Homo sapiens: one gene and its partners. The protein of the gene in region 4 interacts with the protein of the main gene of each other region in a pairwise test. Each region holds a gene or a part of one and is shown on either strand. Other genes may lie near its edges.

Region 1 (4,347 bases), 7.9 Mb from region 4:
TCAGGGAGCTCTTTTTTTTTTTTTTGGAGACAGAGTTTCGCTCTCATTGCCCAGGCTGGAGTGCAATGGCGCAATCTCAGCTCACAACCTCCACCTCCCGTGTTCAAGTGATTCTCCTGCCTCAGCCTCCCAAGTAGCTGAGATTACAGGCACGCGCCACCGTGCCTTGCTAATTTTGTATTTTTAGTAGAGATGGAGTTTATCCATGTTGATCAGGCTGGTCTCGAATTCCCGACCTCATGTGATCCGCCTGCCTTAGCGAACCAAAGGGCTGGGAGTACAGGTGTGAGCCACCGTGCCCAGCCCAGGGGAGCTCATATTCTATCTAATTTAAGAATTTGGGCCAGGCGCAGTGGCTCATGCCTGTAATCCCAGCTACTGAGGATGCTGAGGTGAGAAGATCACTTGAGCTCAGGAGTTCGAGGTTTCAGTGAGCTATGATCATACCACTGCGCTCCAGCCTGAATGACAAAGCAAGTCCACCCCATCTCTGAAAAAGAAAAAAATTTTAATTATTTTTAAACAACCATTAAAGGTAATCAGAGGGATCTAGCACATACCAACATTAAAGGAAGATAACACAGTTATACTAAGAAAACTAATTGTTTCAGGTAACAATGTTTTTGCTCTATTTGCCCAGTGTTAGAATTTTACTTATTTTCTTGGTATGTAAAATCAATGGAAGAAATTTACTTTGGAAATGTATCAACAGCTCAGTTAGTTCACGATTTTAGTCATATCCTCTCTCCAGATAAAGATGGTAAGAGCAGCTTCTAGTTACTAAGCATATACTTTTGTGTTTGGCATTGTGTGAATGCCTTATATATACATATTCTATCCTTAAAGCTGCCCTAATACAGGTGGTGTTTTTTCTTTTTGAGACACAGTCTCGCTTTGTCGCCCAACCTCCGCTTCCTGGGTTCAAGCGATTCTCCTGCCTCAGCCTCCCAAGTAGCTGGGATTATAGGTGCATGCCATCATACCCTGCTAATTTTTGTATTGGAGACAGGGTTTTACCATGTTGGCCAGGCTGGTCTTGAACTCCTGACCTCAGGTGATCCACCTGCTTCGACCTCCCATTTTTTTTTTTTTTGAGTCATGGTCTTGCTCTGTCACCCAGACCATAGTGCAGCGGCACAAACACAGCTCACTGCAGCCTTGACCTCCTGGGCTCAAGTGATCCTCCTGCCTCAGTCTCCTAAGTAGCTGGGACCACAGCTGCATGCCACATGCCCAGCTAATTTTTAAAACTTTTTTTGTAGAGACAAGGTCTCATCACATTGCCCAGGCAAGTCTGGAACTACTGAACTCAAGCCATCCCCCCACCACGGCCTCCCAAAGTGCTGGGATTACAGGTGTGAGCCACCATGTCTAGCTTTTTTTTCTAACTTTAAAAAAGATTATTTCCCATGTCGGTAATCCCAGCACTTTGGGAGCAAGACTCCATAGCAAAAAAAAAAAAGAGATTATTTCCCTGGTGGTCTAGTGGGTAGGGGGAAATAAAAGATTATTGAAACGTAATATACACAGAGGAAAGTACACGTAAGTCTATACAGATCAATGAATTTTACAAACTCAGCATACCATGTAACCTGCACCAGATCAAGAAACAACTTTGTTAGGTCCCTTAAAACCCCACTGGGGACATGGGGGTGTTTATGTTAATATCCTCTGTTTACAGCTGATCAAAAAAGATCAGCTCAGTAGGGGCAGGGCTGGAATTTGAACTCAGGTGTCATTATTACCACATGAAACCTTTACAGTAGCTATACTATCATTCATTCATTCCACAAAATTTAAGTGGTTACTTTTTTTTTTTTTTTTGAGGCGGAGTCTCACTCTATTGCCTAGGCCGGAGTGCAGTGGTGGGATCTTGGCTCACTGCAACCTCCACCTCGCGGGTTCAAGTGATTCTCCTGCCTCAGCCTCTGGAGTAGCTGGGATTACAGGCGCCTGCCACCGCACATGGCTAATTTTTGTATTTTTAGTAGAGACGGGGTTTCAACATCTTGGCCAGGCTGATCTTGAATTCCTGACCTCGTAATCCACCTGTCTCGGCCTCCCAAAGTGCTGGGATTACAGGCGTGAGCCACTGCGCTTGGCTTTTTTTTTTTTTTTGAGACGAAGTCTCCTTCTGTCGCCCAGGCTGGAGTGCAATGGTGCAATCTCGGCTCACTGCAACCTCTGCCTCCTGGGTTCAACCAATTCTCCCATCTCAGCCTCCTGAGTAGCTAGCACTACAGGCATGTGCCACCACGCCTGGCTAATTTTTTATACTTTATTAGTAGAGACAGGGTTTCACCATGTTGGCTAGGCTGGTCTCGAACTCCTGACCTCAAGTGATCTGCCCGCCTTGGCCTCCCAAAGTGCTGGGATTACAGGCATCAGCCACTGCACCTGGCCTAAGTGATTACTATGTGCCAGGCATTGGGTAAACTGGTGATACAATGGTTAGCAAGACAAAGAGACAGATAAGATCCTTGCCCTCATGAAGGAGCTTATATAATAGAAAAAAAGAAAAACAAGTCAACAAAAGTTGTCATAAATGCTATAAAGAACACAAACATGGTGCTCAATGAGAGAATTAAGGGAGTAAAATGACCTAGTTTTAAAGTGGTCAGGGAAGGTCTCTCTGAGGAGGTGACTTTACAGCTGAAAGCTCAAGGTTAAAGAAGATAGCCACACAAAGAAAAGTGGAAGGATGCCAAGAAGAAGGCACAGCATGTGCAAGTCTCCAGAGGCAGGCTGGAAAACACTGGTTGAACTGGATCCAGGAACTGAAAAATATCAGTGTGGTTGGAATGACTTTGGAGGGAGACAGGAAAGGGCCAAATATATAACCTAAGGTTAAGAGTCAGAATAAAATCCAAACAGCAGAGGGACTATATTATAGAGTTAAGCAGGGGAGTGATATATTATTTGTGATTATTTGAAAATATTTTTATGAAACATTTCAAACGTGTAAAAAAGATATGAACACTCATGTACCACCCAGCATTATCAAATCTAAACGCTATTGTTAGATTCAAAATTTTGTTAATAATTAAAACATACATGATACAGCAATGCAACTAAACAACTGTCTATTCCTTTGTTTAGTTTTTCAATGTTATCAGTACAAATTCATCCTATGATCTCCCCAGTAGTCTCGATCTCCTCTGAATGTATTCAGGCACCTCAGGTTTTCTGTTAAACCAATTTTCCTGAAGAAGTCGCTCCTACAGCATCTGACCTGCTCCTGCAGTGGCTCTTCTCTATGCCTAGTACACAGCTGTCAGCCTGGAAGCCTCTTTCACTGCACTGTCACCTGTCTTCCCCTTTCCTGCCTTTCCCTCTCATTTTTGCAAATATTTCCAGAAACTTTCTGAGAAGGGGAATGATGAAAAACTCTGAGGTACTGCATGTCTAAAAAAATGTATTTAGCCTACTGTAACACCAAATTGATAGTTTGCCCGAGTTTAAAATTCCAGGTTGGAAATAATTTTCCCTTAGAATTCTGAACAGATTCTCCAATTGCTATCTAGCTTCTAGTGCTACTTTCAGGGAAGGCTGAAGTCATTTCAAGTCTATTTTTTAACGTGTTCTATTTCTCTTCTCTAGAAGCTTTTAGGATTTTTTTTTCCCTCAGTGTTCTGACATTTTATGATAATGTCTCTTAATGGGAACCTACCTTTATCCTTCATTATGTTGGGACCTAACTGGCCCTTTCAATTCAGAAACAAAGATCCTTCAATTATGGGACACTTTCTGAATTATTTCACTGATGCTTTTCTCCTCTGTTCTGTTAATTATGTATTCTGATCACTAGGTTTATTAGTTCACGTGTTTATATATACCAGTTTACCATGCTATACCCCACTCTTTTGTTGTCCTCCTCTTGTTTTAGAGATAAGAGTCATGCTCTGTCACCCCAGGCTAGAGTGTAGTGGTGTGATCATAGCTCACTGCAGCCTTGAACTACTGGGCTCAAGTGATCTTTCTGCCTCTGCCTCTCAAGTAGCTGGGACTACAGGCATGCATCTACCATGCCCGGCTAATTTTTTAAAAAATAATTTAGGCTGGGCGCGGTGGCTCACGCCTGTAATCCCAGCACTTTGGGAGGCTGAGGCAGACGGATCATGAGGTCAGGAGATAGAGACCATCCTGGCTAACATGGTGAAACCCTGTCTCTACTAAAAATACAAAAAAGTAGTCAGGCGTGGTGGTGGGCGACTGTAGTCCCAGCTTCTCGGGAGGCTGAGGCAGGAGAATGGCGTGAACCCGGAAGGCGGAGCTTGCAGTGAGCTGAGATCACGCCACTGCACTCCAGCCTGGGCGACAGAGCAAGACTCCATCTAAAAAAAAAAA
Region 2 (4,347 bases), on a different chromosome or scaffold from region 4:
GAGACAGGGTTTCACCTTGTTGGCCAGGCTGGTCTCAAACTCCTGACCTCAAGGTCATCCAGCTGTCTCTACTTCCCAAAGTGCTGAAATTACAGGTATGAGCCACCATGCCTGGCCTCAATCAGTTATTTATCCCTGACTGTATCTATGGAAAAATGTGAACACATTTTTCCCTTCTGTCTGGGTGAGCGTGTGGGTCACCCACTGTCCAGCGGTTCTGTACTAAAATGCGAATGTTCCACGGGTGTGGTGGCTCATGCCTATAATTCTAGCACTACGGGAAGCCAAAACCGGCTGATCCCTTGAGCTCAAGAGTTCCAGACCAGCCTGGGGAACATGGTGAAACCCCATCTCTACTAAAAAAATACAAAAAAATTAGTCAGGCATGGTGGCATGCACCTGTAGTCCCAGCTACTTAGGGGGCTGAGGCAGAAGGATGGCTTGAACCTGGGAGGTCGAGGCTGCAGTGAGCAGACAGCCACTGCAGTCCAGCCTGGGTGACGGAGTGAGACCCTGTCCCAAACAAACAAGAACCATTCTAGACGAATCAGGATAAGTTGATCATCTTAGAATTGAGGCTTCACTAACAATAACTGTGACTTTGGGCAAAGTTACTTCACTTGTCTGTGCCTCAGTTTTCTCATTTGTAAAAGAAGGAGCACAATGGTAACTACCGTGATGGGTTTTGGGAGGTCACAGTAAAATGTTCTATGAACAGACCAGGTGTGGTGGCTCGCGCCTGTAATCCCAGCACTTTGGGAGGCCGAAGCGGGTGGATCACAAGGTCAAGAGTTCAAGACCAGCCTGGCCAAGATGGTGAAACCCCATCTCTACTAAAAATACAAAAATTAGCTGGGCGTGGTGGCAGGTGCCTGTAGTCTCAGCTACTCAGGGGGCTGAGGCAAGGGAATCGCTTGAATCTGGGAGGCAGAGGTTGCAGTGAGCTGAGATCATGTCATTGCACTCCAGTCTGGGTAACAGAGCGAGACTGTCAAAAAAAAAAAGTTATATGAACAGTGCTTAGAATATTGTTGTTCCCATAGTGAACACTCAGTGCATGTTCCCTGTTATTGCATATAAGTTTGGTCACCAGAGTGAGAAACCTTGGCTGCTGGAGCCTAACAGGTCTGAGTGAATCCTTGTTTATTTTATTTATTTATTTTATTTTATTTTATTTATTTATTATTATTATTATTTTTTTTTTTTGAGACGGAGTCTTGCTCTGTCTCCCAGGCTGGAGTGCTGGAGTGCAGTGGGGTGATCTTAGCTCACTGCAACCTCCACCTCCCAGGTTCCAGCGATTCTCAAGCCTCAGCCTCCCAAGTACCTGGGATTACAGGCGCCTGCCACTATGCCTGGCTAATTTTTGTATTTTTTTTTTTAATGGAGTCTTGCTCTGTCGCCACGCTGGAGTGCAATGGCTTGATCTTGGCTCACCGCAACCTCCGCCTCCCAGGTTCATGCAATTCTACCTCAGCCTCCTGAGTAGCTGGGACTATAAGCACCTGCCACCATACCCAGCTAATTTTTTTGTATTTTTTTTAGTAGAGACCAGGTTTCACCATGTTGGCCAGGCTGGTCTTGAACTCCTGACCTCAGGTGATCCACCCACTTTGGCCTCCCAAAGTGCTGGGATTACAGGCATGAACCACCATGCCTGGCCCTAATTTTTGTATTTTAATAGAGATGGGGTTTCACCATGTTGGCCAGGCTGGTCTCAAACCCCTGACCTCAACTTATCCGTCTGCCTCAGCCTCCCAAAGTGCTGGGATTACAGGTGTGAGCCACCATGCCCGACCCCACCCCCTTTTTAAATAAAAATCAGTATCCTCATGACATCCCACATTGCCCCTTTGATGACAAAAGAGCAGCATCTCTGACAGCATCCGTGTGGCATCTCGCAGTGCGGGAACCGTAACCAAAGTATCGGGCTTTGGAGTGAGACAGGACTGGGTTCAGGTCCCAGCTCTGCCACATATAGTCTTGGGCAAGTGGAGTAAGCGCTCTCTGTGCCTCAGTTCCCTCATCTGTAAAATGAGAACGATAGTGCCCACTCCATGGGGTTGGTAGGAACAAAGAAGATTTTGGGCATGTAAAGTTCTTAGTGCCGAGTGCACAGTGGTCTGTAAGTGAAGCTGCGGTTCTTAGTGGTAGAAGGAGCTGATTGATGGCCCTGGCTGAGAACTTTGTGTTCGCTTTTTCCCCTTTTAATTCAGGATCAGTTACAGTTGTGGATTCGAGGCAACGTGAGTGCCTGTGCGAGGTCCATCTTCATATTTGATGAAATGGATAAGATGCATGCAGGCCTCATAGATGCCATCAAGCCTTTCCTCGACTATTATGACCTGGTGGATGGGGTCTCCTACCAGAAAGCCATGTTCATATTTCTCAGGTAAGGTCAGGGCTAGGACATGATGGATGGGCCCCGAGCCCAAGCCTCTGAGCTCCAGGAGAAAACCCTGTCCTTACCCACTGGGATTGTTTTGCAGCAATGCTGGAGCAGAAAGGATCACAGATGTGGCTTTGGATTTCTGGAGGAGTGGAAAGCAGAGGGAAGACATCAAGCTCAAAGACATTGAACACGCGTTGTCTGTGTCGGTTTTCAATAACAAGAACAGTGAGTAGGGCCATCCACCGCCAGTCCCATCTGGTTCCTAATCCTGCACCCTAAGTGTTAAAAGCATCAGGGTCACTGTCAGCATCACCTGGGAGCTGGGTAGAAAGAAATGCAGATTCTCAGTCCCCTTCCGAGTCATGAGGGGAATCTTTGCTGATGAACTCCAGGTAACTTTTATGAACACTAATGTTTGACAAGTGCTGTTTTATTTTTATTTTTCAGATAGTTTTACTCTGTCACCTAGGCTGGAGTGCAGTGGCGTAACCTTGCCTCACTGCAACCTCTGCCTCCCGGGCTCAAGCGATTCTTGTGCCTCAGCCTCCTGAGTAGCTGGGATTACAGGTGCACACCATGCCCAGCTAATATTTGTATTTTTAGTAGAGATGGGGTTTTGTCATGTTGGCCAGGCTGGTCTTGAACTCTTACCTCAGGTGATCCGCCCACCTCGGCCTCCCAAAGTGCTGGGATTACAGGCGTGAGCCACTGTGCTCAGCTTATTTTTTGAGACAGAGTCTCACTCTGTCACCCAGGCTGGAGTCCAGTGGTGTGATCTCAGCTCACTGGAGTCTTGACTTCCTAGGCTCAAGTGATCCTCCAGCCTCAGCTTCCCATGTAGGTGGAACCACAGGCTTGCGCCACCATGCCTGGCTAATTTTTTTTTTTTTTTTTTTTTTTTTTTTTGGTAGAGACTGGGTCTTCCTATGTTTCCCAGGCTGGTCTTGACTTCCTGGACTTAAGTCATCCTCCCGCCTCAGCCTCCCAAAGTGCTGGAATTATAGGCATGAGCTACATACCTGGCCTGCTGTTTTTTTTTTTTTTTTGAGATGGAGTCTCGCTCTGTTGCCCAGGCTGGAGTGCAGTGGCGCGATCTCGGCTCACTGCAAGCTCTGCCTCCCAGGTTCACACCATTCTCCTGCCTCAGCCTGCCGAGTAGCTGGGACTACAGGCACCTGCCACCACACTCGGCAAATTTTTTGTATTTTTAGTAGAAACGGGGTTTCACCATGTTAGCCAGGATGGTCTTATCTCCTGACCTCGTGATCCGCCTGCCTCGGCCTCCCAAAGTGCTGGGATTACAGGCGTGAGCCACCACGCCTGGCCAGTTCCCCCATTTTCTTCAGCTACATGATTTTCTTTGTAGAAGAAAGAGCCAGTGGTTGAGCAAGGAAGGATGCCGTGGGCAGCTCAGGGGGAGAGATGACCTGTTAGTTCCTCCCTTTCTCTGCATTGCCCAAGAGCAACAGCCAAATAGCGGTTCGGCCCTTATTTTGTACTGGGCACCGTGTGAAACAGCCTGCCTGCGGATTTCACTCAGTCTTCACCATACCTCGCAGGGTAGAGACTGAGACTCAGAGATGTGGCAGCTTGCCCAGGGCCATGCAGCCTGTTCGGTATCTCTGATTCTAAAACCTGAGCTTTTAAGTTTTAGCTCACTACTTCTCCAAATGTCATGAGACCTTTGACCTTGAACCTGGGGAGGTGGAAAGCCAGCCTGATGGAGGCTGACTCACTGGCTAAGACCTGTGAGTTGTGCAGGGCTGGCTGTTCAAGTCTTTGCGCTTCAGGTTCTGGAGATGACAAAACAGAAGGGCTCATTTGAAACAGACTTGCCAAGAAATTAATCCTACAGTTAGTGAACAGCATGGGGTACAGTATGTCAGTGTGTGCAAGTGGAATACTACTGAGGAAAGACAAGTATTTTGTAACATGTTGGATAGTTTCTTGCCTTG
Region 3 (4,347 bases), on a different chromosome or scaffold from region 4:
TAAAAGATTAATACAATGGAAATAGGATGGAATGCCATTTTGTCACATTTTTTCCGTTTTAGGGTATATAAGCAAACATCCGAATTCTCTGAAGATAAAACTTTCTGCTGTGTACATATCAATGAATTGTTCAGATACATGGTTATATAGCTAGATTTAGGAGGTTGGATGAATAAAGACAGTTCTTTATGCTCCTGATGAATAAATGTTTGTGTATTAAGAGGTGAATAGGGGGCTGGACGCAGTGGCTCACACCTATAATCCTAGCACTTTGTGAGGCCAAGGCGGATGGATTGCCTGAGCTCAGGACTTCGAGATCAGCCTGGGCAACATGGCAAAACCTCGTCTCTACTAAAAATACAAAAATTAGCCAGGCATGATTGCACATGACTGTAATCCTAGATACTTGGGAGGCTGAGGCACTAGAATCGCTTGAACCTGGGAGATGGAGGTTGCAGTGAGCCGAGATTGCACCACTGCATTCCAGCCTAGGTGACAGAGCAAGACTCTGTCTTAAAAAAAAAAAAAAAAAAAAGGTGAATAGGGGAAGCACAAAATGTGTAGTTTTGAGAAAAGCCTATTAAAGGGGACCTAAGAATGGAGAGATTTGCGAGGAGAGGTTGTTGGATTTTGAGTAGAGTTCCTTTGAACAGTTTGAAAGAGACCCTAGAGCTTTCAGGAGAATGGCAGGAGACATCTCCTTCATTCTGCTGGTGCTCCACTGCTGCTTGAGGAAGGCAGTGTTGTTATGGGAAATAGGAGATGGATAATAACACAGCGATGGGGTGCCGGGATTCTGAGCATTTCCTTTTGGCCCTCTTTGACTTTGATTTGCTTTTATTTCCATTATCCTTGGATACTGAAAACTTTTCCTCATTTCAAGTTACTGTCATCTGTATTTTTTTCTTCTTGGATGTGTTTGTTTCTTTTTCATTCAAATCTTTTGCTACCTGAAGGTGAAATAAAAGGTTTTGGCAAATCACCAACCTGGGTGGAGGAGAAACCGCCCTGGGCATTCTGCTGCTTCGTGATCCACTTCACGATGTTGGTTGCAGAGGTCAGGTCCTCCGAGGTTGGGGCTGGCTGGGCCGTGAGATAAGCGAGGAGCACATAGGATGTCATCTCCACCTCAGCAGAGGGAGCCTGGGGTTCGTAAAAATGCCCCACTGGTGCCTTGGGTTTCTGAGGGCGCTCCCAATGGACAGAGTTGTCTTAAAGATGAGAAAAAGATATTTATAAGTGCCTACATATTTATATTTAATTCAAGGTGAAAGTACCCAAGCCAGTGCTGAAATGAGAATTGCATGCCCATTATAATCCCCTGTACTGTATGTAGATGCTTTTCCCTTCATGTAAATCTGAATTTGGTGTGTTTTAGCCCAGCTAAGGCAGATATTGATGCTGGAGTCAGAAGCCTATGCCTATCTATGTTTTCAAATCGTTGCTATAGTCGGGTTGGTGGGAGAAAGAAATGGCACAGCAGTTGTCTCATTGAGTCTGGCTATTTCCTATTTATGATGTTATATTAGACTATAGCTGGAGTTTGTTACATTTCCTATAAAGTGTGTCTTTATCAGTTTCTTGTGAGGATCACAGATCACATGAAATAGTAGAGTTTCTACTCATTAAATTGAAAAAAAAAATACAGTAATCCTTGAAATACCAAAGGCTGACATGGATGTGAAACAATGGGAACCAATATACACTGCTGTGGGAAGCCAACTGCTCTTTGGCAATATTCAGCAATGGGGAAGATGTGCTTAGCCCACTAATCAGTCATTATGCTTCTCAAAGCATAATTTGGAGAAACACAGATGCACAAGAAAACAGGCACATGAGTATTCATTGCAGCATTTTTTTTAATAGCAAAACATAAAAAAAATCCATGAGGAGAAACTCGATGTGTAAATTATGACTAATTTATAGACTGTAATATATTATGCAGCAGTGAAAATTAATGAGCTGACTCTGCACATACTTGTATAGGGGTCTTCATCAACATAGTGTTGAACTTAGAAAATAAAAAGCAGACAAACAAAAAACTAAGCTGCTGAAATATTCAAAAATGTTTCTCTTGTTTCTTGAATAAGAGAGAAATAAAAATCTTGTTTCTCTCAAGATGAAACACATGTGAAGATTCTAAATATTAGTTAGGGATACATATGCAGCAAAAATATAAGGAAATCCATGGAATTGTAACGACAAATTCAGGATAATGATTGCCTCTGGAGGTGGTAGTGATACACAAGGGATTTATTTTTCCCATGTCGGTAATTTTCTATTTCTTAATCTATGAGAGAGTTGTACAGTGTTTTCTAGTTATAGCTTATGCCCTTTTGTATATCTATTATAAAATATTTCTCAATACATTTTAAGAAGAATTAATGGCTGTCAAAGGAAAAAGGTAGACTGTTTTAATGGACATCTTGTGATTTGCATTTTATTTTCTATTTCTTCAACCGCTCATATAGACCATGGTATATGTAGAAGTACTGTGTGAATATGAGTAGATTGGTCAACATTATTGGTCTTATGAAATGGGCTTAAAATACCAGAATTCATTCAAGGAGTTACTTCCATGATTATTTTCTTATGTTTAAGGTTATATAATGTACCAGGTAAGGGTTGGGCATATATTGAGAACTGATATGTTAATTGTAATAACTAGTACTTTTATAGGATTTGCTATGTGACATGTACTCTACTAAGTGTTTTACGTGTACCAATTCATTTATTACAACAGCTCTGTGAGGTAAATACTATTATTATCCCCATTTTACTGATGAAGGAACTGAAACACAAGGAAGTTAATGACTTTCCCAAGCTCACATAGGTAGCACATTTTGGAGCTAGTCTCCAGAGAATGCTCTTCTTACCAGCATACTATAGAGATGGTCCCTGACTTACAATGGTCCCACTTAAGATTTTTTAGACTTTACAATGAGTTTGTCAGGATATAACCCCATCGTAATTGAGAAGCATCTGCACGGCCTCTTGTCTTCTGATTTCTGATTTGATTAAGAAATCCTAGATTTTATAAGATGCAATATGGACAAAATATATATGATATATAGAAAAGAAGAGAGGAGACAGGGATCACAGGAGGTAGGAGTGAGGGATTTTTGCCATGCAGTTCTTGATACAGAGGATGGGCCAGGAGAAGGATCTCAGGTGTGCTCTCACCTTTCTTCACAGCTTCCTCATTAAGTGACTTGAGTACTTCCTTCCTCTTGTCCTGGTTACCTGCCAGGGCAAAAGCATAGGCCAGCAGTGCTTTGGTATATACATGGCTGCCATGGTCCCCTTCTTGTGCTGTCTTCCAGGCTGACTCCAGGCAAAACAGGGCATTGCGGACAACAGGGTGCTGTGAAGGCAGAACAAGAAGGGAACTAAGCTATGTAAACAGGCATATTAGCATTCCCAGGCAAATACACGGATCACAGCACAGAAGTTTTTCAAACGCATTTTTCCAACGATTCCTCATTCTTATCAATAGATATAATATTATTTTTATCTGTTATTCTCACATTCAAAAGATACATCTTTAAGATTCTTTTTTGAGTGGTGGTGGTAAATAGCCTAGGGGAATTACTGGGAAAATTTAAACCTTTCTTAATGGGCTGACCAAATTCTCTGTAGATCTGGGAAGCACTGGCATTGCATAGAAAGAAAGCTGATGCTTTGCTTTTAATAGGATAGTATTTCAGACAGCAGGTCAGCAGTTTCATTGCATCCAGAACTCTCCTTCAGCAGAGGAATGGGGTGGTACCTACAGTGACTGTGAGAGGAATCTCCAGAAGGGCGATGGTGATATAGGCGGAGAGGGTCACTTCATCTTCTACTCCTCCCTGTGAATACGAGAGAGAGATCTGAATAATTCAACTTCTGAGAATGCTATTGATTAGTTCTTTCTATTCTGCTGTGTCATGGAATTCATCCTTACCCATATCCATCCCTATAGGGCAAAGTATCACAATCAACTTTTGTTCTATCCCCTCTTTTTTGGTGCCATCCAGGTTTTATTTTCCTCTGAGGCTTTCCCTTAGAATTTTTCACATTATCACTTCCTATCCTCATCCTTGCAGATATCATAATGGACAAATCAAAACTAGCTCCAGAATGATTCACCTTTATGGCATTGTTGAGCAGTGACCCAGAGCTCCTGAAACAGCCATTGTCCTTCTGCCTCTGGGAGAGCCATATGAGGGCTTGGGTAATGTGTGCTTCATCGATGAAGATGTAGGCTCGAGCTTGGGCAAAAGTCTTCAGAACAAAGGCTGTGAGCCTGACCAGGGAGGAAGCAATCATGATGTTTATGTTGTCAAAATGGTTTTATAACCACTTCAC
Region 4 (5,194 bases):
CAAAGAAACTTACACTATGACACATTATTATCAAATTACCAACACTCAAAGACGAAAAGAAAATCATTTAAAAAGCGCAAGAAAAAGGCAACTCATTATATCCAAGAAATCTTCAATAGGATTATGAGCACATTTTTCAGCAAATACTTTGTAGACCAGAAGGTAGTGGGACAATACATTTCAAGTGTTTAAAGAAAAGTCTGTCCATCAAAAATGCTATATCTGGGAAACCTGCTATTCATAAATGAGAGAAATTAAGACATTCCCAGATAAACATAAGCTGAAGGATTTCATTACCACTATATCTACCTTAAAAGAAATACTAAAGAGATTTCTTCAAGCTGAAACACAAGGATGCTAGATGGTAACTCAAACTCATACAAAAATGTAAGTTCTTGATGAAAGGTAAGTATATACATAAACATGAAACATGACTTTTGCTATTTTGATTTGTAATCATTTTTTATTATTTTATAGGATTTAAAATGTGAAAGCAAAACAATTTATAAATCAATGTTAATTGGTACATATTATATAAATGCAATTTGTAATATTAACATAAAATATGTGTTGGGGAGCTGTAAAGGAGTAAACATTTTGCATATGATTGAAGTTAAGTTGTTATTAGTTAAAAATAGATTGCTATAACTTTAGAATATCATATGCAACCTGATGATGACCACAGAGATATCTGTAGGATGTACACAAAGGAATAGAAGAACATAAAAATGTTTCACTACAGAAAAAAATCAACAAAAAGAAGTCACTAAGAGACAAAAACCTATTAAGACATACAGAAAACAAATAAAAAATGGCAACAATAAGTTCTAAGTTCTTCCTTATCAATAATTAGTTCAAATGTAAATGGTTTAAACTTACTAATCAAAAAGCATATTAAAATTATATATACATATATATCACAATGAATTTAAAAACAGGGGATCCAAGTATATGTTGCATACAAGAGGCTCATTTTACAGATGTAAGGACAAAGATAGAAAGTGAAGGAATAAAAGAGATATTCCATTGAAATATTAAATAAGAGAGCAGAGTTTGCTATACTAGGATCAGATAAAATAAAAATAACAGTCAAAAAGTGTTATAAGAGACAAAGAATATTACATAGTGTTAAAAAGGCCAGTTCACCTAGAAGATATGACAATTAGAAACATACATGCACAAAACATCAGGGCTCCTAATATATGAAACATTTACAGAATTGAAGGGAGAAATAGACAACTCTAAGGTAATAGTAAGAGACTTTAATGTTCCACTTTCAATAATAGGTAGAACAATCTGACAGAAGAAAATTTGGAAAAAATAAATATTGAAAAACATTATAGACCACTTATAGACCAATTATATCTAACAGATATATCCAAAACAGTAAAGCCAACAACAGTAGAATACACATTTTTCACACGAACATATGGAACATTGTCCCAACATATACCACAAATTAGGATGCCAAACAAGTGTTAATAAATGTTAAACGTTTGAAATCATACAGAGTATATTTTTTTATCATAATGGAATAAAAGTAGAAATCAACAGAAAGAAAACTAGAAAATTCATGACCCTGTGAAAATAAACAACACAAACAATGAAACATGTACAAAGAATCACAAGTCAAATTTAAATCCATATTTAGAGAAATTATATAGAAACACAACATATCATTTCATTAAATGCAAAGAATATGGTGATGAGGGTAATTTACAGATTTAAACAACTACATTTACAAAGAAGACTCTCAAATCAATAATCTGACTTTACACCATAAGGAACTTAAAAAAGTAGAACAAACTAAACCAAAAGCCATCAAAAGGAAGGAAAAAATAAAAATTAGAGGTAAAATTGAGATTAGAAAAATAATAAAGAAAATCAATAAAAAAAAGAGTTGGTTTTCTGAAAATGTGAATAATACTGACAGAACTTTAACTGAATTGACATAGAAGAAAAAGAAGGAGACTCAAATAATAAAATCAGAAACTAAAAAGAGAACATTACAACAGATTTCACAGAAATAAAGAGAATACTTTGAACAATTATACATCAATAAGTGGGATAACCTAAATGAAATGGATAAATGGATAAATTATTAGAAACATACAACCTGCAAATTTTGAATCATAAAGAAATAGAAAATCCGAACAGTCATTATGACTAGTCAGGAGACTGAATCAGAAGTCAAAAACCTCTCAATAAAGAAAAGTCCAGACTAAGTGGTTTTACTGGTAAATTCTACCAAATATATAAAGAAGAATTAAGACCAAAATTCCTCAAAGTCTTTCAAAATTTGAAAAGGAGGGAACACTTCCAAACTCATTGTATGACTCAGCATTACTCCAATGCAAAGCCAGACAGAGGCACTAGAAAAATAAAATTTTCTAAACAATATCCCTTATGCATGTCGATGCATTTTTTTTTTACAAAATGCTAGCGAACATAATTATATAGCACGTTAAATTTATTTATGCATCATGACCATTTAAGGTTTATCCCTGGAATGCAATGATGGCTCACCATGCAACAATCAATTAACACTCTTAATGGTAAAAGACTGAAAATATTTCTCTTATTCCTGAAAGATGAGGAAAAATACACAGATGCTCATTTTTCACTTGTAAAAATCAATTAAGATAATACACCACATTACCAGAATGAAAGACAAAAAAAAAATGATCATCTCAATTGATGCAAAAAATAAATAAAGCATTTGACAAAATTAAATAGCCTTTCATGTTAGAAACACTCAGTAAACGAAGAATAGGAGAAAATTACTTCAACATAGTAAAGTCTACATACGAAAACACCATAGCTAACATTATTCCCAATGGTAAGAGACTGAAAACATTTCTCTTGCTCCTGAAACATCAGGAAAAAGACAAGGATGATTTTTTTGTTCACTTCTGTTTGAGATAGTACTGAGGGTTTAACACCCACCCCCCGCCCCCACCAAAAATAGGCAATAAACAGAAAATATAAAATATCCAAATAAGAAAGAAAAAAGGTAAATTCTCTCTCTTTACTGGTGATATGATCTTATATGTGGAAAGTCCCAAAGATTCTATGTAAATACTTAGAATTGATAAACAAATCCAGCAAAGTTACAGGAATCAAAGGCAACACATACAAATCAGTTGTGTTTTTATACGCTAACAACGAACAAAAAGGAAATTAAGGAAACAGTTCTTTTTCTGTATACAATAGCTTAAAGTAGTAAAATACTTAGGAATAAACTTAATCAAGGTGGTAAATTATACAACACTTTGAAGGAATTAAAGAAGGCACAAATGTACATGGGAAGGCATCTGTGTCCAGGGGTTAGAAGACTTGATACTGTTAAGGTGTCAATACCCAAGGAACTGCATATGCAATGCAATTTGCAATGTAATCTGTAATGCAAAATCCCAGAAGTGTTTTTTACACGAACACAAAAATTTGTCTTAAAATTCATGTAGAATTTAAAGGTACTTTAAATAGCCTTTTTTAATCTTGAAAACAAGAACATGGAGGTTTCAGACTTCCTGCTTTCAAAACTTGTTATAAAGACACAATAATCAAAACAGTGTGGTATTGGCATAAAGACAGACATAAAGAACAATGGAATATGATAGATAGCATAGAAATAAACCCTGAGAAATATGGCTTATTGATTTTTGACATGGACGTCAAGGCTGTTTAATGAGAAAGAACAGTCTTTTCAAAAATGCTGTTGGGCAATTGTGACATCTGTATACAAAAAGTTGAACCCTTACCTACATCATATACAAAATGTAACTCAAAGTATATCAAATATCTAAATGTAGGAATTAAAACTATGAAACTCTCAGAATAAAACAAAAGGGAAAGGCTCCATGACATTGGATTTGGCAATGGGTTTCTTGGACATGACACCGATGGCACAGGCAACAACAACAACAATAAAATAGATAAATTAGACTACAACAACATTTAATTTTTATATACATCAAAGACACAATTAACAGAGTAAAAAAGGGAACCTAGAGAATGAGAGAAAATATTCACACTTTATATATTTGATGAGTGCTTTATATCCAGAATATACAGCCAACTCCTACAAATCAACTCCAACAACAACAGAATCCAAACAGTGTGATAAAAATTGATAAACACGGTGAAACCCCTTCTCTACTAAAAATACAAAAATTAGCCGGGCATGGTGGCGCGTGTCTGTAGTCCCAGCTACATGGGAGGCTGAGGCAGGAGAATGGCGTGAACCCGGGAGGCGGAGCTTGCAGTGAGTCGAGATCGCGCCACTGCACTCCAGCCTGGGCGACAGGGCGAAACTCCGTCTCAAAAAAAAAAAAAAAAAAATTGATAAAGGACTTGAATAGACATTTCTTCAAAGGTGCTATACAAATGGCCAATAAGCACATATGAGTATGCTCAACGGCAATAATCTTTAGAAAAATACAAATCAAACCCATAAAAACCACAATGAGATATAACAATTAAAAACATACATGCACAAAACATCGGAGCTCCTAGGATGATGTTTTTTGGTACTGTCAAAAAAATAACTACAGAAAATAACCAGTGTTGGTGAGGATGAGTAAAAAAGGGAAACCTTGTACATCATTGGTAGGAATGTAAAATGGTTCAGATGCTATGAAAAAAATATGATTCTTACTCTTAAAATTAAAAATAACATTACCATATGATTCAGTAATTTCACTTCTAGATATATTCCCAAAATAAGTGAAAGTGTGATCTCAAATAAATGCATGTACATATATGTTCATTGCAGCATTAATCACAACAGAAAAATGTGAAAGTATTACAAGTGTCCTTCAATGGATGAATGAATAAAAAGAAATATGGTTTCTTACGTATTTTATGGTAAATACATGAAATGGAATATTATTCTACCCTAGGAAGAAAGAATATTCTGACACATGATACAATACAACATGAATGAACTTTGAGAACATGAAATGAAAAAAGCCAGTCACAAAAAGCACACGCTTACTGTATGATTAAACATATATGAAGAGTTAGAGTTTTTAAATTTATGGGGAAAGAAGGTAGAATGATGTTTGCCAAGCTCTGGAGGAAAGGGGAATGGTGAAATTGTTGGTTAACGGTTAGAGTTTTAGTTTTGCAAGATGCAAAGGCGTTCTGGAGGTTGGTTGCACAACAATATGAATGTATTTAATACTACTGAACT

What was found. Proteins that work in one complex are often made in the same cells at the same time.
Region 1: the proteins of MNDA (region 4) and SETDB1 interact in binary tests that used the Homo sapiens proteins (3 or more experiments, as listed by UniProt).
Region 2: the proteins of MNDA (region 4) and TOR1A interact in binary tests that used the Homo sapiens proteins (3 or more experiments, as listed by UniProt).
Region 3: the proteins of MNDA (region 4) and A2M interact in binary tests that used the Homo sapiens proteins (3 or more experiments, as listed by UniProt).

Annotation. Positions count from the first base shown.
Region 1 is NC_000001.11:150,953,863-150,958,209, reverse strand, and holds part of SETDB1 (histone-lysine N-methyltransferase SETDB1), read right to left. Parts: intron 1-4,347. UniProt on the Homo sapiens protein: Histone methyltransferase that specifically trimethylates 'Lys-9' of histone H3. H3 'Lys-9' trimethylation represents a specific tag for epigenetic transcriptional repression by recruiting HP1 (CBX1, CBX3 and/or CBX5) proteins to methylated histones.
Region 2 is NC_000009.12:129,816,790-129,821,136, reverse strand, and holds part of TOR1A (torsin-1A precursor), read left to right. Parts: intron 1-2,216; coding exon 2,217-2,392; intron 2,393-2,489; coding exon 2,490-2,617; intron 2,618-4,347. UniProt on the Homo sapiens protein: Protein with chaperone functions important for the control of protein folding, processing, stability and localization as well as for the reduction of misfolded protein aggregates.
Region 3 is NC_000012.12:9,073,573-9,077,919, forward strand, and holds part of A2M (alpha-2-macroglobulin isoform a precursor), read right to left. Parts: intron 4,286-4,347; coding exon 4,129-4,285; intron 3,849-4,128; coding exon 3,774-3,848; intron 3,365-3,773; coding exon 3,184-3,364; intron 1,212-3,183; coding exon 988-1,211; intron 1-987. UniProt on the Homo sapiens protein: Is able to inhibit all four classes of proteinases by a unique 'trapping' mechanism. This protein has a peptide stretch, called the 'bait region' which contains specific cleavage sites for different proteinases.
Region 4 is NC_000001.11:158,833,379-158,838,572, reverse strand, and holds part of MNDA (myeloid cell nuclear differentiation antigen), read right to left. Parts: intron 1-5,194. UniProt on the Homo sapiens protein: May act as a transcriptional activator/repressor in the myeloid lineage. Plays a role in the granulocyte/monocyte cell-specific response to interferon. Stimulates the DNA binding of the transcriptional repressor protein YY1.